Linked DNA regions of Homo sapiens. The protein of the gene in region 1 interacts with the protein of each later gene in a biochemical or structural test. Each region holds a gene or a part of one and is shown on either strand. Other genes may lie near its edges. The genes, in order: ELMO1 and HCK.

Region 1 (7,274 bases):
AGGAAGGGCATGATTGTAAGGGGATTGAAGTCAGAGGCATCTACTGTGTCCCATTCTGCTCTCCTACAATATGGAAGTGAAGACAGGAGGCTGTAAGGGAGGCTGTGTGGCAGATGCAGGGGAGATGAGAAATGCCTAGGAGAAGAAAAATAAAAGTGAGAAAACATTAAGGTGTTCTGCAGGTGCAGCTAAGTCTTGAACATTTACTAAATTACTATATTGAAAAGAAGCTAACTCTTGAGTGTTTCAAAGTAATTTAACCCCTTTGGGTGTTTGGTGTGAGTGGGTGGGGCGGGTGGGGAAAGGGCTTTGAAGCCTTTGCTGAAGGATGTGGCTGGGGGTGAGGCAAGGAGCTCACCTGATCACACACTGTGCTTACTTCATCAGGTTGCCTAATGCTCAAGGGTTAAAGGTGATCATTCCTATGGAGGTAACATTTCCCTTCCAGATCTAAGACAGTGGATACAATTAAGGTTTGTAACTCAAGCTTGTAACCACTTTTTGGTGCCTGAAACCATCCAAGTAGATAGTTTGGTTTATAAGACATTCTGTTGAATCTGGAAAACGTGGTGGATTAAGAAACCCTCTCTGCATCACAAAGCCTGGAGTGTTTGCTACTAATTGTGCAACTTTAGTTCTGGTTCCTTCTAGTCAACCAGAGAAGTGCTTTTTAAGCTTACGGCTGTAACCCATGAGCGGATCATGATATCACTTTAGTAGGCCAAGACCAGCAGTTTAAAATGTGAAAGAGAAGAGTGGTGTGGAAAACAGCATTTCATAAAACAGACACCCAGTCTTAATGTCAAAGTATTGCTCAGTGTAGGTAACGATTTTAAAAAGCCTGTTTCAATAATTCTGGGGAAAACTACATTTTTAACCAACTTGCCAGGGATTCTGATGACGACGTTCTAGAGGGCTACAAGAAATACTTAGCTATCTCCTTTTAACAAAATACTGTTGGTTTAACCCCCTGCAGGAGATGCTATTTCCAAATGTTGAACCAGATGCAGTTCTGTCGGCTATTGACTTAACTTTTCAAAATGCTACTATTGGCCGGGCGCGGTGGCTCACGCCTCTAATCCCAGCACTTTGGGAGTCCGAGGCGGGTGGATTGCGAGGTCAGGAGATCCAGACCATCCTGGCTAAGGCGGTGAAACCCCGTCTCTATTGAAAATACAAAAAAAATTAGCCGGGCGTGGTAGTGGGTGCCTGTAGTCCCAGCTGCTCTGGAGGCTGAGGTAGGAGAATTGAGTGAACCCGGGAGGCAGAGCTTACAGTGAGCTGAGATTGCGCCACTGCACTCCAGCCTGGGCGACAGAGCAAGACTCCATCTCAAAAAAAAAAATGCCACTATTTGTAGAACTTGCCAGTGCGCTAGGCCCTCATGCTGCCATCTTGGAGGAACTAGAAACTCAAGTGACATGCTTTTCACTTTAGTGATGCAGAAAGGCAGTAGCTCCCTTTGCAATAACTCTTTAACCTTACTTAGAATAAAATCGACAGACTATCCCCTTTTCTCACCAAGTTTTAGTTTAGAACTTTTGAGGTCTTTGGAAATTTACTCTGCTCAACTTCTCCTTTCATATTTTACATCTAGTGTTCCCCACATGAATGATTCTAATTACAAAGACAGTTGTAATCTCTTCTGGAGGCAGCCACACTGCTGGGATGCATGATTAGGTGAAGCATTTTAGCTGACCTGGGCTTGGATTGGCTATCCAAAGAAGAAAGTCAAAGGCTGACAACTCAGCCTGGGCAACATAGCGAGACCACATCTCTCAAAAGTTAAAAAATTAGCTGGGTATGATGGCATGCACCTGTAGTCCCAGCTACTTGGTAGGCTGAGGCAAGAGAATGGCTTGAGTCCAGGAGTCTGAGGCTGCAGTGAGCTGTGATCTCACCACGGTGCTCCAGGTTGGGGGACAGAAAAAGACCCCATCTCTTTAAAAAAAGAGTCTGAGAACTTCTGCACTGTCCATAATAAAAGGATCATGAAGGCCAGTCATTCCACAGGGTGTGGCTCCCAGGACCATGTGTGTGGCCATGAAAGCCTTCCAGTATGCCAGCACAGCATTTTTAGGTTCAGCAAAGCCAGCCTGCATGTACAATGCACACACTGGTTGCAATGCTTATTTCCCTGGATAATTTGGGTTGTTTGAGTGTTAACAATTGGAACTTATCTATATTAGCCAGAACTAAAGCCTGCAAAGCCATATCATGATTCCTGATTACATTAACTACTTGTGTCTTAGTGCTGTATTTTCTAACCTGTTACAATATAAGTGCAGGTACGGTACGAGCAGAATTTGGTCATTGGCCTAAGGTGGGGTGAACAGTTAAGTATCAGATAGGAATACGTGTGGGAGAAGGAATGCTAGCTCATCAAACAGAATTAACTACAGTAACAAACTGGCATAGTGCTGAGTCGAGAAATTAGTCACATGTATAAATAGAAGGAGACGATTCTCAGTGTTCCGGGCCCCCACAAACACTGATTTCCAGAATCTGAACAGAATTATTATTGGAACTTCAATTTTAGGAATTGAGGCTACAGTTTTGACTGTTTTAGTTCTAACAGTTAAGGTAGAAAACAAAACTTTCCTCAGTAGAAAACACTGGAGAGGCACAACTTGCTGGACTAAGGACTGAGATGTGTTCAGTGGGTTGTACTCTGGATAGGGAATGGTGGTTTGAGGGAATGAAAATCAGGTAAGCCCTATAAAGCATTCTCTCAGTGGAGGTGGAGTCATAGGATCAATGCGACATTTTTCTCTGTGGCCTGACACACCCTTCCTCTGGGGATGCTGTTTTGGAAATGATGGAGAACAGTCAGAATAGTATTGTTATCCCATTTTACAGATGTGGCTTGGAGGAATGAAATGTCACAAGCATACTTAGAGAGTGCATCTGAGCCTTAAACCCAACTTTTCTGACTCGTTTTACTGCGTTGTTTCTTTCTCCTGCACCATGATGTCTGCACTGGTTAGTTCCTTCTTTTGTTGGTTCACTGGACTTGCCAGCCTCTGAGGCCAGGATGCCATGTGGAGCTATGCTGCAGTGGTGTCCAGAGAGGCTCTTCACTCCTGTATGTCCTGCAGATGGATGTGCCCTGGGTTGCCATGGTATCCAGGGATGTCAATGCTGCCACTGAGTCCTAGTTCTTCAGAGTCAATCCCTCTCTTTGGGTATCTCATTCTAAAGTTGACCTTAGTTTTGAGAGTCAATGGATTCTTCTCTCAGGGACAGTATGTCCATCAGCCAACCTCATGATATTGAAGCATATGAGCTAGAATGCAATTTATTAATAAAAAATGAGAACAGTATTTGCCAAGAAGAATGGGCGTTTATTCTTTAGCCAACATTTTTCCTCTGTGGATGAGTCATGGTGAAGGCAAAAGCATGGAACCACCTGGGAAGGAACCAGTTGGAAGGGGAATATACTTGACAGTGTTTTCCAGCTCCTCATAACTTTTGCTAATTCTCTTGTTGATAGATTCATACCAACTAAGAAAACCAGAGACTGGAGTCCTTTGACCGTGATGGTTTCTCCTTTGGGCGATGCTGAGGCTACTTGTACGGTTCTTTTTCTACTTGTAGGCTGTTGGCCATTTTACTGACCCATTATTTCAGGCAGTGTCAGCCTCAGTGCTATTGACATTTCGGGCTGGATAATCCTTTGTTGTAAGGGCTGTCCTGTGTACTGTCGAATGTTTACTGCCTTCCCTGGCCTCTGTTCACTAATGCCAGTACATTAGTCGTTTGTGACAACCCCAGATGTCTCCAGGTATTGCAGATTGTCCTATCAATTTTCCTGTCCCCAAGCTGAGAACTGCTGCTTTGTCTTCCTGTGTTAGTGAGACCAGTTGTGTGTTATCAGATAGTCTAGACTTTCAACAGCAGTTATAAGTGCCCCAGTTTTCTCCTTACTGGTTATTCCTTAGAGTCTAAGGTGGTGTATTAATAAATGAGAGGGCTCACCCTTTATGTTCATTTCTTTCCTCCAGCTCTCCAAGTTTCCTTTCTAGCTCTCTTCTCTCTTATACTGCAGTTGTTTCTCTAATCCAAATGTTTTTCAAGTTTCCTTTCCATGCATGTTTCTTCCTAGTACCTGTGGCTGAAAAACACTGTAACTAGTGAGTTTTTGTCTCAGTTTCTTAACAACGTTTTGAATTCTGACCACTGGTTACTGCCTTAACTGTAACCTTTACATAATGGCAATAAGATAAATGAAATGAGGGAGGTGGGTAGCAAAGCTCAGCTTGGCTTGTTCAGAGGCCTTTGTCACAAGACAAAGGAAATGTCTGTGTGGGAATGAGTTAAGTGAGTTCAGTGCCTCCTCCTTTGCTTGTCAAATCCACCTTGACTAGTTGGATAGTAATGGTTATTGATATTCCATTAGTGCGACCAGGACATTGTAGCAGGTCAGGGAGAAGCCTTCAAGGTACTGCTTTATGCGAAGTCCTTTCCCACTTTGTATATTAGATTTCTGTCCTAATCTTGCCATGTTAACTTTCTTATGTAATTATCTGTCAGCCTTTTATTTACCTTCTCTGCTTGGCTGCTGTCGTAGTCCAGAACACCATCGAGTGGCTTAAGTGCCGTAGAAATATGCTGGGTTATAGACTAGCTATGACTCCCCTAGGCAGCCGCCTTCTTACAGTTCACCAGCCCTATAGCAACCCTCCACCCTTCCTTCCGCCCTTTGTGTCTTTTTTTTTTTTTCAGTTCAGAATTGCATTTAGAACGCCAGAGTTTTGTGCTGTGGGGTTCAGTGGCAGAGCTGGATGAGCTGTATTTTCCAGGCTGCTACACACAATTACCCTTAATTTTGAAGAGTAATCCATTTCAAAATAATTTTTTTTTTGTTTTTGGTCTCTTTAGCCCAAATGCGTAACCACAGCTGGCTTTACCCTTGGCCCTCAGAAAGCATGTGGCTTGGGAGGTAGAGCTAGTGGAGGAGTTTGGTCAGATTGCTCATTTTTGGTCAAGTGAGGAGTGAATTCCAATAACACTCAGTAAGGCTGGTTTTTATTTGACTCCCGTCCACCCCTCCAACTCTCCCCACCCCACAGTTTCCTAGATTTTTTTTTTTTTTTGAGATGGAGTCTCACTCTGTCACCCAGGCTGGAGTGTAGTGGCGCGATCTTGGCTCACTGCAAGCTCTGCCAACCGAGTTCAAGCGATTCTCCTGCCTCAGCCTCCTGAGTAACTGAGATTACAGATGCCCACCACCATGCCTGGCTAATTTTTGTATTTTTATTAGAGATGGGGTTTCACCATGTTGGTCAGGCTTGTCTCAAACTCCTGACCTCGTGATCCACCCGCCTCAGCCTCCCAAAATGCTGGGATTACAGGTGTGAGCCACCACACCCAGCCTCTTTGTTTTTTCTTTCTTTTTCTTTTCTTTTCTTTTTTTTTTTTTTGAGCTAGAGTCTTGCTCTGTTGCCCAGGCTGGAGTGCAGTGGCACGATCGTGGCTCACTGTAACCTCTGCCTCTTGGGTTCAAGTGATTCTTCTGCCTCAGCCTCCCCAGTAACTGGGACTACAGGTGCCTGCCATCACACCTGGCTAATTTTTGTATTTGTAGTGGAGACAAGGTTTCACCATATTGACCAGGCTGGTCTCGAACTCCTGACCTTGTGATCCGCCTGCCTTGGCCTCCCAAAGTGTTGTGATTACAGACATGAGCCACTGTGCCTGGCCCCTAGATTTTTTTATAGTGGACTTGTGCCTCAGTTATTCCAATTGTGGGCCACTCTGGGAAGTGACCACTACTCAGAAATTTTGGTTTGGGGGAGTGGGACCGATTCTTTGATATATTAAATAATAAGTGCTTTGTACATATATGTGTGTGTGAGAGAAAGACACACACACACACACACACCCATGCAGCTCTAATAATGAAAGGCCTTTAGAAGCAAAGAAACAATTATATCAGCTGCTAAATCCTGTTTTCTCCAGTGCTGTCACTTTTATAGTAAGTCAGCACAAATCACATGAAATTAAACATTTTGTCAAGGAATGAATATGTTTCCATCATCTCTAGGCTTACTCCACTGCCAGGAAGCGACTTTGACTCATTAGAACTACTTTCTCAATTACTGTCCATTCTCCAACTGAAGGTTTTTGAGAAACATTTGCTTGGGTTTATATGAGAGAAGCACAGTAAAGCTTTATTTATTAATTGTAGTATATTTTAAAAACAGATGTTGAGCTTATCCTTAAAATGTATATAAATATTTTCAAGCTAAACTATTGCTGGGCTTATAGCCCTGATCATAATGCTTCATTCAGTCATTCAAGTCAGTCAACAGCCACTTTGCTTGTAATTTGTATGCTGTAGCCTGGGCACTCCATATGTGGAGAAGGGGTAGGGAGGGCTGTAACAGGCAAATCTGTTTAGAGACAGTCATAACAGTATGCTAAAGGTATGTTTACCGTGATTGCAGATCACAGAGGTAGGTGTTCACAAATGAGGTGACTTTTGAGAAAGATCTGGAAAGCTGAGTATTAAGAGAAAGAATATGATACATCCAGGGAATATAGCAATCAGGGTGATGGAGGACAGTCTGGAAGGGGCTTTATGTCAGCAATCCCAGGAGCTGGGCATTTGGATTCAGCAGAAAGGAAAGCCAAAGGCTTTTAGGCAAGGAAAAGATGCAGTGCATTCCAGTGAGAGCAACCTGGAGGATAGATTAGATGGTACAGCTGGAGGGAGGGGCAGAGGAAAGATGGGAGCTCCTGCTAGGCCTGCTCAAATAAATACATGGTCTTGGTCAGATGAATAAATAAACAAAGCAGTGTGCTTGCTGTGCCAATGCAACTAGGAGACAGGTTGTCCAGCCCCCGCCTTCCAGCGGGTGCCAGCCAGAGTCTGAGCAGAGGTAAAGGAGGGGAGGCCAGCACTCACCGTGTTTGCCTGTAGATATTGATGACAAAATTAAATGATTTGCTAAGTGATTGGATTTGGGAAAAAGGAGAAGGAGTCTTTGAGGTTTAAAGCGCCATAAGCACATACTTGTTAATGGAGGGTTCAGATCTCCTGTTGAGTACAGCAGATGGGTGACTTCAGGTAAGTTAGTGATCTTCCTTAGCCTCAGTTTTCACATCTTTCAAGTGTAGGTAATATAAGTCCCCACCTCTTCGAGTAGCTGAGATGATTAAATGCAATCATGATTGTAAAGTAGAGTACCCTAAAAGCGTTGGGTTGGATTTGCTATTATTATTGAGGTTATTATCACTGATTCAGTAGTGTTTTTTTTTTTGAGACAGAG
Region 2 (7,274 bases), on another chromosome or scaffold:
AAGATGTCAGCAGGGCTGGTTCCTTCTGGAGGCTTCAGGGGAGAATTCATTTTCTTGCCTTTTTTAGTTTCCAGAGGCTACAGCATTCCTTGGCTCATAGTCCCTTCCTGACATCTGTCCAAGCTCTTGTTTCCATCTTCACCTCTTCCACTTTGACCTTCCTACCTCCTTCTAACAAGAACTCAAGGGATTACACTGGGGCTACCTGGATCATCTGGAATAATCTCCCCGTCTCCAGATCCTTAACTTAATCACATCTCTAAAGTACCTTTTACCATGTAAGGTAACATATTCCCAGGTTCCAGGGTTTAGGGCATGACTATCTTGAGGGACCACTATTCAGCCTACCACAGCATGTTCACATTTCAATAACTGGACTGGATTTCTGGGTTTTTTTCCAGAAAAGTCATAGCCTGAGTTTTTATGAAAAAGTAAAAAGTATACTATGGTCTCTTGGCTTTTTGTAGGGTAGATGATAGAAAGATGGAACAATAGATCAGAAATAATGAAGATGATGATGATGATAGCCAACATTTGCAGAGTGTTCAGCTTCCAAGTAGTTTACAGGCATTACTTCTTTTAGCCGTCAGGCAATAGGATCAGGTAGGGAGGCGTGAGAACTATTCCCATTTTACAGATGAGAAAACTGAGGCATAGAGAGGTGACATAGTCACATGGCCAAGGTCTCACGGGTGGATGTGGTAGAGCCTGGATGAGAGCCCAGGATGCCTGGCTCCCACAGCCCACTCAGACCCTCGGGCACTTCTGCCCAGGTGTCAGGACGGTGCCAGCGGTAGCCTTACAGGGTGTCAGAGTGCTAATGCAAGGTGGCAGGCCTCCAAGATGCCATTCTGAGGGGTTTCTCTTTGGTCAATTCAGGAAGCTACTCTTTGTCCGTGCGAGACTACGACCCTCGGCAGGGAGATACCGTGAAACATTACAAGATCCGGACCCTGGACAACGGGGGCTTCTACATATCCCCCCGAAGCACCTTCAGCACTCTGCAGGAGCTGGTGGACCACTACAAGAGTGAGTCCCACCCCAGGGGTGACATCCCCACCACGATGGGCCCACAGACTCCTAGTCACGGATGCACTGTGGCCCCTGAGACCTGCTGTGTCCTTCTTGGCCATCCCCTAGACAGATAGTTGCTTTGGATGCTTCTGAAGGCTTAGGACTGTTGAGCAGGAGGGTGAGGTGGCCAAGATGTAGAGGTGGCACCCCGTCACACTCTGCTTGCTTGGGAATGTCTCTGATGGTGGCAACCAGGTGGAACACTGGAGAGATCCAGTGGACCAGGTAGGGCGGCCTCCAAGGAGCAACCTCTGGCTGGCTCGGTGCTTGTTGCTCTCAATTGACCAGGGACTCTGTTCCAGAGGGGAACGACGGGCTCTGCCAGAAACTGTCGGTGCCCTGCATGTCTTCCAAGCCCCAGAAGCCTTGGGAGAAAGATGCCTGGGAGATCCCTCGGGAATCCCTCAAGCTGGAGAAGAAACTTGGAGCTGGGCAGTTTGGGGAAGTCTGGATGGGTAAGGACCCAGGGCCACAGCCCACAGGGCCAGAGGGTGGAGGGGAGAGGGAGGCCACTTGCTTCCAGGAACACCTTATGGCAAAGCGGGAATGCTACCCAAGGCAGAGGGGGAGATTTAAATAATAGCCATAAAGAAGCAGTTCCCTGATAGCAAACCAAATTGTCTTGCTGTGCAAACACTGATTTGCCTTTGAGACCAGTCCTGTAGTGGTCAAAAACTTCCTTCTGGGAAGCAGGTGTCATGGATGAGGAATCCCTCCCTCATACGGAGTGGGGACTGCCTAACAGTTTGGGATTGAGATAACCAGAGACCTTTTCAGATGATGAAAATTAAGAATGGGGAAATGCAGCTTGGAGATTTCCAGGCAACTGATGAACAGGTTATTCTGAGCACCTGCTGTGTGCCCAGCACTGTTAGGGTCTTGTGGGAAAATCAGAAAGGCACATCTCACACCTGCTGATTTTCCCCAAGAACTTAAGAACAACACTGCCTGCTTTGCAGGGCTGTGGGGTAGATGCAGTGCCAGCCCAGTGTGGGGCAGCCTGCTGTGTTAATACGTTCCAAATGGGAGCGTTCCAAATGGGAGCGAAGACAACTTACAGGGATGCAAACAACTCAGCCAGATAAAATAAGTTTAAAATCCATGTATTTCGACTGTATTTATTGCGATTCTGCTGCATGCAAGGCCGGGCACAGTGGCTCACGCCTGTAATCCCAGCACTTTGGGAGGCCGAGGCAAGTGGATCAATCAAGGTCAGCAGTTCGAGAAAAACCTGGATAGTATAGTGAAATCCCGTCTCTACGAAAAAATACAACAATTAGCCAGGCGTGGTGGTGGGAGCCTGTAATCCCACCTACTCGGGAGGCTAAGGCAGGAGAATCGTTTGAACCCAGGAGGTGGAAGTTGCAGGGAACCGAGATCGCACCACTGCACTCCAGCCTGGGAGACAGAGTGAGACTCTGTCTAAAAAATAATAATAAAATTAAAAAGAATTTGACAAAAAAGAAAATATGGAGAGGAAGGTAAGACAGATCTGAGTGGTGAGATTTGAAAGCCAAAAATATCATATAAGACGCTAGACTCCTACTACAGGAAGCCCACGGTTCTGGATTGGAGCTTCCTGGAAGCCAAGGCAAAATGGAAACCCAAGCAATTATAAAATTGACAAGACCCACCAAATGAAGCAGGGTGGGGTGAGGGGAGGGAACAGCATGTGCCAAATCCCTGTGGTGGGAGGTGAGTTGGGTGCTTGAGGGACTGAGTGACCTGCAGGGTGACTGGCACATAAAAGGCAAGGGGAGTTTAGTGGCTGATGAGGCTAGAGGGGTGGACGAGGCTGGGTCATGTAGGGCCTGGGGGTCATAGTAAGTCTGGCATTTATTTAAGAGCAGTGTTAAGATTAAAGTGGGCGGTGTATGTGTGTGACATAACCTGAGTAGTGTTTTAAAGCTATTTTTATTTGTTTGGGTTTTTTGTTTGTTTGTTTGTTTGAGACAGAGTCTCGCTCTGTCACCCAGGCTGGAGTGCAGTGGCTCAATCTTGGCTCACTGCAAGCTCCGTCTCCTGGGTTCACACCATTCTCCTGCCTCAGCCTCCCCAGTAGCTGGGACTACAGGCGCCCACAACTGCGCCTGGCTAATTTTTTGTATTTTTAGTAGAGACGGGGTTTCACCGTGTTAGCCAGGATGGTCTCGATCTCCTGACCTTGTGATCCGCCCACCTCGGCCCCCCAAAGTGCTGAGATTACAGGCGTGAGCCACTTAGAGCTATTTTTAAATCCTTGCAACAGCACTTCAAAGGCAAAGCTTACCATTTCCACTTTACAGATGAGGAAGCTGAGGAAGCCACGGCTCAGAGACGTTAAGCCACTTGCCCTAGTGTGCACAGCTGGGAAGTGGTGAACCCGCCTTTCAACCCACAGTTGTCTGAGGCCTAAGCCCATGATTTCGCTTCCCTCTCTGAGAGTTGAGATGAGCAGGAAAGACTTTCTGGAGGAGGCGGGTCTGCAGCTGGGCCTTCTAGGGTGGTACGGGAGACCAGTGGGCTCTGACCACCTTCCCTGCTCTCTATCCCCCTCCAGCCACCTACAACAAGCACACCAAGGTGGCAGTGAAGACGATGAAGCCAGGGAGCATGTCGGTGGAGGCCTTCCTGGCAGAGGCCAACGTGATGAAAACTCTGCAGCATGACAAGCTGGTCAAACTTCATGCGGTGGTCACCAAGGAGCCCATCTACATCATCACGGAGTTCATGGCCAAAGGTGCTGCGTGCTGGGGCTGGGGGTGCAGGCTGTGGCCTATACTGGTCAATTGCGGGCCCAAGGGTGGCTTGGACATGGTTCTTGCCCTTGAGATGGCCCCAATCTGGCCAGGAGCTCTTCCAACAAGTACTCATTGAGAATCTAATGTGGAACAATCCAGCCCTCCTGGTTAGTGGGGTGAAATCATGTTAAGGGGTCACCAAGGGGAAGGGAGAACAAGGGGCTACCAGGAGAAGGGAATGGGGCCAGAATACTCCTGGGCAATGGGAGAAGGGGCTTATGGTTCACAGTGAGCCTTAGAGGCCAGGGTGTGGCATGGGTGGTGGGGGTGCCACTCTCCCGCATCAGCCACCTTCCCTGTACTTGCCAAAGCCCTGGGAGAGGGAGCTGGCAAAGCAGCAGTTCTGCCCCCACCCCCGCCCTGCCACAACTCAGGATTTCTTGGGGAATTTTTTTAGGCCACTGTTTCACAACCATTTTCAACCCCTGCCATTTTTTGTTTGTTTGTTTTTTAGGGACAGGAACTTGCTCTGTTACTCAGGCTGGAGTGCAGAGGTGCAATCATAACTCCTGGGCTCAAGTGATCCTCCCACCCCAGCCCCCCGAGTGGCTGGGACCACAGGCCCATGCCACCACACTCAGCTAATTTTATTTATTTATTTACATATTTATTTTTAGAGACAGGGTTGCCCTCTGCCTACCCAGGCTGGAGTGCAGTGGCGTGATCATAGTTCACTGTAGCCTCAAACTCTCAGGCTCCAGGATCCTCCCGACTTAGTCTCCCCAGTAGCTGGCACTACAGGCATGCACTACCACACCCAGCTAATTTCTAAAAAAATTTTTTTTTTTTTTGAGACAGAGTCTCACTCTGTTTCCCAGGCTGGAGTGCAGTGGCACAATCTCGGCTCAATGCAAGCTCCACCTACCAGGTTCACGCCATTCTCCTGCCTCAGCCTCCCAAGTAGCTGGGACTACAGGTGCCTGCCACCATGCCTGGCCAATTTTTTTGTATTTTTAGTAGAGACGGTGTTTCACCGTGTTAGCCAGGATGGTCTCAATCTCCTGACCTTGTGATCCGCCCGCCTCAGCCTCCCACCATGCTGGAATTACAGGCGTGAGCAACTGCGCCCAGCTTCTAAAATTTTTTTCTAGAGACAAGGTCTCGCCATCTTGCCCCAGCTGGTCTCAAACTCCTGGGTTCAACTGATCCTCCCAAAGCTTTGGGATTATAGGCATGAACCACTGAGCCTGGCCTAACATATATATTTGTAAATTTCTTCTATAGATGGGGTCTTGCGATGTTGCCCAGGCTGGTCTCAAACTCTTGGCCTCAGGTGATCCTCTCACCTCGGTCTCCTAAAGTGTTGGAATTACAGGAGTGAGCCTCGTGCCTAGCCACTCTGCCCATTTTTTGATAAACAGAATCATCTCATGCAATCCCATTTAGTGCGATTTGAAACCTCAAGCCTTTTTCATTTTAACTATGCAATTATGCCAGTCCTGTGAAGGCATGATCCCAGCCATCCAGGCTCAGGGGCTGTCTCAGTCACAGAATCCATCTAGCAATCAAAAAGTCACTTCACTAAAACTCAATTCTCTTTCTCAAACACTAGGAATTGCAAACAAATATTCGTATTTAAATCTACTACTATGAAAAATCTTCACCACACACTAAAGTACTAGATTGGTGCAAAAGTAATTGTGGTTTTTGCCATTAAATAGTAAAAGTAGTAAATGTTCCTCCCCTCTCCCCCATATAGGAAGCTTGCTGGACTTTCTGAAAAGTGATGAGGGCAGCAAGCAGCCATTGCCAAAACTCATTGACTTCTCAGCCCAGGTGAGAGCCTAACGAGGAAACGGGGAAGGGAAACAGGAATTCGATTTTTTTACTTGCCAAATATTTACTGACCACATACTATGATGATAGCAGTAATAATAATGGGTAAAATGTATTGAGAGCTCAGTATAAAACTATGTTTTTTGCATATATTTTATTATACATGTACTCATTCATTTAATCATCCTATAAGCTTTATAGGCTGGGATTTTTGTTATCTATTTTGGTATAACAAACCATCCAAGTCCTAGTAGCTTGAAACAACAGCAATTGTTATTTCTCATGATCCTGTGGGTTGCCTGGGTTCAGCTGGGTGGTTCTTCTGCTCGTCATGGTAAAGTGAGGTGCAGATGTTGGCACTTGCCCAGGCTAGAATGTCCAAGACATGGCTCAGCCTCCAGGGTCTCTCCACATAGCCCCTCACCACCCAATCACCCAGCCTGAGCTTCTTCACGGCGCAGCAGCTGGGTTCCAAGACAGAGCTGGACCAGGGGCCAAGCCTTCATGAGCAGGCTCTCATTAAGCCTCTGCCTGCATCAGGCTTGCTAATGGCCCATTGGCCAAGTCACATAGCCATGCCCAGAATCAGTGTGGGAGGGGACTGACCAAGGACACAAATCCCAGGGACCCCCTCAATGTAACAGTCTGGCCACAGAGTAGGTAATTATCATCCCATTTTACAGAATAGGAAATTGAAGCATAGAGCAGAAGTAAAGTACAGATGTGGAAACTGAGCCCCAGTGTGGTTAAGTGGCTTGCACAAGTTACTGTGCTAATTATGGGGGATATAGCAGTGAACAAAATGAAAATGTTCCTGTCCTAATAGAGTTCACAATCCAGGTGGGAAGATGAGTATTAAATAACCAAATCTCTTAGAGACCATGACCCAAGTGGTCCTGGCTGAGTCAAAAGAGCACAGTATCTAACAAAGTAAATAATGTTCACAAATCGCAAAAACACTGCTGAAAACCTAATTTTCTTTCTCATGTTCCCCACGCCCCTTGCAGCTCCTCTCACCCCCAGCCTAAGCAGTTTTTTCACTTCTGTCCTCTCTCATGCTCTCTCTGATGTCTGGGAAAACAGAGTGTAAGGACGGGGTGGTATTAGAGTGCATAGCTAGAGCATTTAGCCTGGTCCAGGAGCAATCAGAGAATGCTTCCTGGAGGAAGTGGCCTCTAGGCCGAGCCTGAAGGATGAATAGAAGTTCAGTAGATGAAGAGAAAAGGTAAAGGTCTTTTAGACAAAAGAAACAGCCTGTGCAAAAGTAGGTGAAGGAGTTCAGCCTACTCAGCAGGAGCCCAGGGATAGTGGGAGTTGAGTGAGACCCTGCCTGGGCCTCAGCTGGGCCTGCTGGAGATGCCAAGGGCAGGGCTCATTTGAGTATGCAAATTCAGGGGCCCAGAGGACACCACAAAGTGTAACAAAAGACTCTACTTTCAGAGCCTGGAATGCCAGAGGCATATGGAAATGTGTTTTCACTCCTATGGGCCAGGTCCTCTGGGAGACAATAGACTGGTCTGTTGCTAAATTATCATCTTCAAACTAGCAGAAGCCCTGCTGGGCAGCAGTCACCGACCAGGGCAAGAGCCACTCTGCCCGTTTCACAGAGGGGAAAACAAACCAAGGGAGGAAAAGAGGTTCTGG

The links.
Region 2: the proteins of ELMO1 (region 1) and HCK form a complex in vitro, tested with the Homo sapiens proteins (one study listed by BioGRID).

What each region holds. Positions count from the first base shown.
Region 1 is NC_000007.14:37,438,591-37,445,864, reverse strand, and holds part of ELMO1 (engulfment and cell motility protein 1), read left to right. Parts: intron 1-7,274. UniProt on the Homo sapiens protein: Involved in cytoskeletal rearrangements required for phagocytosis of apoptotic cells and cell motility. Acts in association with DOCK1 and CRK. Was initially proposed to be required in complex with DOCK1 to activate Rac Rho small GTPases.
Region 2 is NC_000020.11:32,083,015-32,090,288, forward strand, and holds part of HCK (tyrosine-protein kinase HCK), read left to right. Parts: intron 1-879; coding exon 880-1,029; intron 1,030-1,376; coding exon 1,377-1,529; intron 1,530-3,613; coding exon 3,614-3,793; intron 3,794-5,553; coding exon 5,554-5,630; intron 5,631-7,274. UniProt on the Homo sapiens protein: Non-receptor tyrosine-protein kinase found in hematopoietic cells that transmits signals from cell surface receptors and plays an important role in the regulation of innate immune responses, including neutrophil, monocyte, macrophage and mast cell functions, phagocytosis, cell survival and proliferation, cell adhesion and migration.